2 linked regions of the Homo sapiens genome follow. The protein of the gene in region 2 interacts with the protein of the main gene of each other region in a pairwise test. Each region holds a gene or a part of one and is shown on either strand. Other genes may lie near its edges.

The links.
Region 1: the proteins of SUSD3 (region 2) and HHATL interact in binary tests that used the Homo sapiens proteins (3 or more experiments, as listed by UniProt).

Annotation. Positions count from the first base shown.
Region 1 is NC_000003.12:42,699,984-42,704,387, forward strand, and holds the start of HHATL (protein-cysteine N-palmitoyltransferase HHAT-like protein), read right to left. Parts: upstream 2,816-4,404; 5' UTR 2,596-2,815; exon of another isoform or gene 2,558-2,595; intron 1,539-2,557; exon of another isoform or gene 1,484-1,538; intron 1,208-1,483; exon of another isoform or gene 1,205-1,207; coding exon of another isoform or gene 1,149-1,204; exon of another isoform or gene 1,129-1,148; intron 857-1,128; coding exon of another isoform or gene 844-856; coding exon 738-843; intron 1-737.
Region 2 is NC_000009.12:93,082,613-93,085,858, reverse strand, and holds the end of SUSD3 (sushi domain-containing protein 3), read right to left. Parts: intron 1,323-3,246; coding exon 1,112-1,322; 3' UTR 726-1,111; downstream 1-725. UniProt on the Homo sapiens protein: May play a role in breast tumorigenesis by promoting estrogen-dependent cell proliferation, cell-cell interactions and migration.

The sequences.
Region 1 (4,404 bases), on a different chromosome or scaffold from region 2:
CTGTGTGTCTGGGTCCAGGACTCTGTGTGTGTGTGTGTGTGTTGGGGTGTGTGTGTATATGTCTGTGTGTTTGTGTGTGTGTCGGGGTCCAGGTCTCTGTGTGTGTGTGTGTGTGTCGGGATGTGTGTGTGTGTATGTCTGGGTCTAGGTCTCTGTGTGTGTGTGTCTGGGTCCAGGACTCTGTGTGTGTGTGTGTGTGTGTGTGTGTTGGGGTGTGTGTGTATATGTCTGTGTGTTTGTGTGTGTGTCTGCATCCAGGTCTCTCTCTGTGTGTGTGTGTCTGGGTCCAGGTCTCTGTGTGTGTATGTGTGTGTGTGTGTGTTGGGGGGTGTGTGTATATGTCTGTGTGTTTGTGTGTGTGTCTGGGTCTAGGTCTCTGTGTGTGTGTGTGTGTGTCGGGATGTGTGTGTGTGTATGTCTGGGTCTAGGTCTCTGTGTGTGTGTGTCTGGGTCCAGGCCTCTGTGTGTGTGTGTGTGTGTGTCTATGTGTGTGACTCTGTGTCCATCTCTCTGTCAGTGTCTCTGCATCTCTGTGTTCCTGTGACTGAACCTGGCTCCACCCAGCCTCCAGTGACTATCTGAGATGGGAACCCCGGGCTGAAAAGGGAGATCCAGCCGTGTTCTAGAAGGAGTACCCTAGGTCTGGAGCCTGTAACTTTCTGGCTTTGCTGGTTGGAACCCTGAGGCCTCCAGGGGAAGAAGGGTCCTGTCCACCTGCCCCGGGGCACAGCCATTACCTTGTGAAGCCTCAAGGAGGCCCCGGCCAGCATAGGCCAGGGCCCCACTCAGCACCAGAGAGTAGAGGCCCAGCTCAGCCGCCGGCAATGCTGTCTTGATGCCCATAGCCTGGACAGGGCTGGGGAGACAGGTTGGGTGAGGGAATTACAGTCTCCAGCCAAGCCTAGCCCCACCTCATGGTCCCACCACCCCAGTGGGGACCCACTCTGAAGAGAGATTGCCCCTCCAGCCCCTTGGGGACCTTGTACCATCACTCTGCCTGCCCCTGTGCCCCCCACAGTTCACAGGCCACCGAACACCAGTGCCCCATCCCAGCTGCTGCTCTTGCCCCCACCCCACCCATCAAGGCTCTTGCCCGCAGAGCCCTCACTCGCAGCCTGCCTCCCTCACCTTCATTTACATCTTCATACCTTCCAGAGGCACCGGCCCCACCCTCTGCCAAAACCGCTCCTGCCAAGGCCCCCATGACCTGCGTGCGGAGAAACCCCACCTCTATCACTACAGTCAGGTTTCTGCCTGCAGGGTCCCCACCTCGATCAGTGAGTCTCCCTTAGCTCCTCACAAAGCCCCAGCTTCTCTAAGACCCTTTCTCTGACTCCCACTCCCCTCCCTGAGATCCCATGACCACCCCAGGTGCTGCCCCTAGAGCCAAGCCTCCATCCTCGCATTAAGCCTCCAGCCTGTCACTGACCCCCATTCCCCCAACAAGTCCCTGAGCTCCAGCCTGTCACATCCCAGTCCCTGCCTGTGTCCGTGACCACACTGCCCCACTCTCTCAGCGCTCTGTGTATTCAGGCCCTGGGCACCAGCTGGAGGCTGTGCTATTTGAGGAGGTGCCCAGGAGTAGCGGATGTGGGGCCAGGCGGGGCCAGGCGGGGCCAGGGAGGGCACTGGCTGCTGTCCAAGGTGCTGACCAGAATCAGGCCCCGGCTGAGTCTCACCACTCCCTCCAGCGGGGGCCTAGCTTGTCCCCTGGAGAACTGCTGGGCCGTACTACGGCTCAGCTAGCACCTTTACCCTTCCTATCCCGCTTCAGCCTGGCTCAGGGGCTTCCCAAGGACTCCATGGATACAGACATAGGACCCAAATTAAAGGGAGGAAGCAGGGAACATGTCCAGGCAACTCTTGGGCTGACGGGGCCAAGAGGTGGCTGATGTGGCCCTTTTGCCCACCCTTGATCCTCCCCTAAATCTTCATCCCCAGCCCTGTAGCCATCTCCCCTGGGCCCCCCAGCAGCCGACGGTCTCCTCGTACAGATGGAGGGGTCATGGGCCAGATAGGGGCAGGGACCTGTCAAGGTCACATGGCAGACCTGGGACAGACTTCTGCCTGCCTCCCTTCAGGATTGGGTTTCTCAGTGACCCCCCTCTGGAATCTGGGGTAAGAGAAGACCACCACTGCCCCTGCCCACAGCAGAGGCTGCCAGCCTGATGGCTGTGCTGTCGGCCTGAGGGTGGAGGCACCTCCTCATCAGTTGGGTGGGGGTGGAGAGGCCCTGGGGATCAGGTTAATGGAGCAGGAGCTTGAAACCGGAGCATGGTGAAGAGCCCGTGAAATAGCTTTGTCAGCTGCCTCCCACTCGCCACTTTCCAATTTTAGCTCCCCATGGCCGGTGCGGGGTGTCCCCAGTGAGGCCTCTGCAAGGAGCTGGCCCCCAGCCTGGGGCCTCTCCTGATAGACCCCCAGACCAGGGCTGGCCTGTGGACACGGGGGCATACCCTTTCCCCTGGTCCTGCCTGCCCCAGATGCCCCGGGGGTAAAGCCCCTTTTGGGGCCTGTGATTTGGGATGAGGGCCTGGGGTGTGCCCCACAAGTCTCAAGAGCCCCAGAGTAGCTGCATCCCCAGCTGGCACTGACCTTGAGGAGGCCGCAAGGGACCCTGGCACACTGCCCACCTCAGGCTCTGGGGTCCGGCTTCCAACTGTCCGTCCGTGCGACCGGCTGAGCTCTGGGGCCACGGTGGGGTGTGTCCAGCCCTGGGGTCCCCACCCCCTTGAGGTTATGAGCGGTGAGTGGTGACAGCGGGAGGAGGAGGGGGAGGAGGAGGTGGCCTTCCTGGAGCGGAGCTGAGCAGAGTGGAGCAGAGCCGAGTGCTGCAGAGCTGCTGGCCACAGGGAGCCGCAGGGAGGATCCTTGAAGGGGGGCGGGTGCTGGGTGGGGGGAGGGTGTCCAGTAGCATAGGCTCAGACAGGGACACCTGGGCCTCTCTTCAGCCTGCCTCCCCTGGCTCCTAGAGAGCCTGTGCCTCTCTCTCACTGCTACCCAGGACTTCCCTCTTCCAGGAAGACTCCTGGTGGTCCCACCAGCCTCTCCAGGCTTGTAAGCCCTGCCCCCACCACAGACACACACAGTCACAACATGCAAACACTTTCATGCTTGGGCTCCAGGGACTCCAGCTCCTACCTTTACATATGACCTCCTAAGGGCTATCCCAGGGCAGACTTGTCTCGCCCCATGACCTGGTCCTTTTCATTATGCCGTGAGTCCTGGCTGGCCATGCATCAGTGCCTGAGGGAGGGCTGACTTGCCTGATGGGACTGGAACTGGCATGGGACATGTGGCTGAGAGGGATCCCCATAAGTCAGCCCTGTCCCATAGGGAGTGTCCTGGATGGAGGGGTGCTAGCAGGGTCACTTGGCAAGGCTTGTGGGTACTTGGAATGGCTGGTATCCTCTCGGTGGCAGAGTGGAGGCAGACAGGAAGACAGGTGTGTTCCTAACCAACTGGGAGTCCTGGTAGGACAGGGCCCTCATTCTGGAAGGGAGCATCCAAGGCCTCAGCCCTGGATACCTGAGGGGAGGGGCATCCTGAAGGTGCCCCTGAGATTAAGAACCTCTGACAGTGCCCCTTCGGTTGAGGCCAAGTCTCGGGCAGCTGTATGTGTCTGTGCTATCTAGGGGGACCTGTTCACCTGTGTGCTTGTGGGGAGGCTCTCGGGGGTAGAAGGAGCTTTGTGGCTGTGATCAGTCACAGGACAGCTCCTGGAGCCCCTGCTGATCCTATGACCCCAGCTTCAGGCTCAGTTGAGGAGGCAGGAGGGAGGTGCTGCTCCCCACCCATCAGGGCCCAGGAAGGGGAGAGACTGCACTTAGGCAGGGAGCTGCCTCCCGAGCACATAGACACGCTGGCCTGGAGAACAGCAAGGAGACGCCCAACCTACACACTCCACACAGGACACAGAGGCCCGTGTCTGTGGTCCCCGACCCTGAGAAGCATGAATGGTGACTACTGCACAGTGTGGGTGCTGGGTTAGAGCTGTGGTGGGTAATGGGCACTAGAGAGGCCAGCATCAGGAAGGGAAGGATACCTGAGCCAGACTTCAGGGTTAAGGAGGGCTTCCTCAGGGAGGGGTAGTCAAAGGTTGTTAGGAGTAAGTTAATCATAGTAGCCAGGATGTACATGGATTAACTTTTTAATGTCACCACAGCCCATAGGGAAGATGTTGCCACTGTACGCAGTTGGGAGAAGAAGGACCTGGCACATGAGGAAGCCAAGTAGTTGGATCAGCCCTGTAAGCTCCTGGCACTGACTGCCCTGCAGGGGCGACAACCCCGTGCACCCACACTGGGGCCCTCACGAGGCTCCAAGAAAATGGCTCAAGGGAGCAGACAGGGTGGTTTGACCCCAGAGTTAAGAACACAGGTTCAGCCAATTTACTTGACCCTG
Region 2 (3,246 bases):
AAGCCCAGGCCACATGAGGCTGCCATGTGGGGGTGCTATGGCTGTGAAATAAAATCTTAAGCCCCACTGACTGACTGAATGGACCTGTCTTGGCCAAGGAGAACTGCCCATGACTAAGACAGGTCAGTCATGCCTCAGTACACTCCTTCCTTGCTAACCAATACCAGATTTTTTTCTTCAGAGTTAAACAGAAACTAGCTCTGAAAACAAACAAACAAACAAACAAAAAAAGGGAAGTCTCCTCTGCTGACTCTAACATCAACCAACCACTGTTACCTTTGTATTTTTCAGTATTAGAAATAATTATTTAGCTGGGCACGGTGGCTCACGCCTGTAATCCCTGCACTTTGGGAGGCCGAAGCAGGTGGATCACAAGGTCAGGAGATCGAGACATCCTGGCTAACACGGTGAAACCCCATCTCTACTAAAAATACAAAAAATTAGGTGGGCGTGGTGGTGGGCACCTGTAGTCCCAGCTACTCAGGAGGCTGAGGCAGGAGAATCGCTTGAACCTGGAAGCGGAGCTTGCAGTGAGCAGAGATTGCACCACTGCACTCCAACCTGGGCGACAGAGTGAGACTCTGTCTCAAAAAAAAAAGAAATAATTATTTAGTTTTACTTCATACCCCTCAACTGCACTTTTACAGACAACAGATGCAGAACCCTCCATGGGTCCTTGCTTGGAAGCAGTACATCCTGTGGAGGAAGATGCTGAGGTAGTTTTCTGTAGTTGCTGAAAAGAAGTTTATTGCTATTTTCTTATTTTATTATACAAAACTAGATTTGCTTAAAACATTTCCCAGTCTCTTTAAAGGAATGCTAGTTAGTGGGAGGCCACAGCTAGTAAATTACCCTCAGTAGTGGTTTCAAGTAGTCCATAACTATAAAAATCGTTACGGCCAGGATATGCCGGAACAGAACACTCCCCACTGGGGTCCTCAGCCTTGGATGTCAGCTCGGCCCCTCAAGGGGTCCCTACACCTGGAAGCTGATTCCACTCATCAGTCTCGAGCTGGGCGCATGTGGAGTTGATGTGGAGTTGTAGCTGACTGGCTGGTGGGGTCAGCCTGGCCTCCCAGTGTGGAGCATGGGCACCAGCCTCACTGCGTGGTCACCCTAGGGCATATGCTGCGGGCTGTTGTGGCATTCCTGTGGCCAGCCCAGAGGCAGGCAGGGGCTGTCTGGGGTTTGCCATGTGCACCATCACCTGGGCTTGGGGTGAGCTGGAGGAGCCACTGAGGCTTAGAGCTCTGGGGATCCCAGGGTCCTTGTCCACGCTGCGGGTCACACTGGCCAGCTTGCTGGTGCTCTCACCATGGTCTCTGTGGAGAGAGGAGGCATGAGTTGGCAAAAGAGTGTGGATAGGGTTTAATCCCCAACTCCATACCTTCCCAGGTACCCAGGCCCTCCAGTGGGCCTGGGGCAACTGCTGCCCTGAGCACTGGGGAGCCCGTTTCCTCCTGCTGGGAGCTGCCCTGCACCCTAAGGTGCACAGAGGTCACTCCATCTCCCTGCCGGGCCCTGTTGGCAAGTGGGTCCTTCATCTACACAACCAGGGCGTGGCCCAGGAGTCAGACACTTGCCCCCCTAAGGTGTGGGAAGGGACTTCCTGGGGCTCATTCAGAGTGTGCAGAAACCACCAGGAACCCAGCTGTCTGGCCAGGGCCTGGGATGTCCCAGGCAGAGAAGGGATGCTGGGGAGCAGGAGGTCAAGGGGAGGACATCTTCCCTCCTGCCAGGCCTGCCTCTTTGGTAGCCAGGAGCTGGATCACCCACCTGCTCCACCCTCAGTACTCTTGTGGCTCTCTACTCCCCCAGATACAAACCAAGCCATTCCCCAGGCTGACCAGACCCTGGCCCTGTCCCATCTCCAGCCTCCACACACACACTGGCCTCTGCTCCATGTGGGCTGCCTGGCGGCTCCCACCTCCAGCCCTTTGCATGTCCTCTCCTCCCCTCAGAGGCTGTCTCTCTCCCCTCCCAAAGCAGGCTCTCTTAGTCCTTTCACTTCCGGCATCACCTCTTCCAGGAAGCCTTCCTGGATCACGGCTCCCACCCACAACTAATTCTCAGAAAAACTCTAGTAAGTAGTAGGAATTAAGAAATGATCTGCTTATGCAATGAGTAAGTGAAAGCATCAATAACTGGTGGAGACGAAAGGCAGCTTCGGGGAGGCAGGAGCCAGACTGACTCCACCCAGCCTCACTTACTGGTTGTGTGGGAGTCTACACAAGTTTCTTAACCTGCCTAGTTCTTCACCTGGAAAACGGGATAAAAGTAGTACCCACCCCTAGGTGAAAAGAGTTAATATTTGGAAGAGTTCAGAACAGTGCCTGGCACATTGCAAGTGCTGAGAAGTACTTATGAAATAAAAACAAGGTCAAGAGGCAAACCTCACCTTGCTAAAGGCAATTTACCACCTATGGAGGCAGCCTGGGCCCTGCCTGAGGGGTGGGCAGCCCCAGCACAGGCATATCCCGAGGATCCTGCCTGGGAGCCCGGGGCCCAGGGCTGGGGACTCAGGGAACTCTGCCTCCATCGGCTTTGTAGCCCTGGGCAGGACCCGCCTTCTCTGAGTCCCCATGAAGCTGGGCTGAGTGCTCGAGGTCTCCATGTGTGAGAGAGCTCCGGGAAGGGGCTCTGCCCTAAGGGTCCCCCTCCCAATCCCCCTCAGCCTCACCACCACTTCCTGCCTCTTGAGCTGACTGTCAGAGTGGCCCCTAAGCCGGCCTCCTCCAGCCTCTCACGGCCCTGTCAGGGTGCCTCCCTCCCGCCCTGGCTCTCTCACTCCCCAGAGGGGGTGAACACAGCCCTGTACACAGATCTGTGGCCACTCTTGGACGGGACGCACACGTCCGACCACACACTGCACAAGTTCCCGCAGTGTAAGAGGCAGGGTCTGTGGCGCTGGGACCAGGCAGAAGTGTGGCCCCAAACAGCACCCCTGGGAGCCCCTCGGCATCATGCTCTGGCCAGCAAAGCCCCTGCGGCAGCGGCAGCAGCTGTGGCTGCCATCATCCTGGACACCATGTTGCCTTGAGAGGCAATTGTTCCTTCCCCCATTCCATGGGCACTTTCCCAGTTATGACACAGGATGATCTGGTCCCAGTGCTGTAATGGGGAGTGGGGATCACAGGTGGGGCAATGGAGGAGCTCTGAAAGTGGCTTTGGATATCTCACTACCCAAAAGGAAAGGCATTAGCCACCATGGCCCCAACAAAACTAAAATAAAAAGGAAAGGGGGTC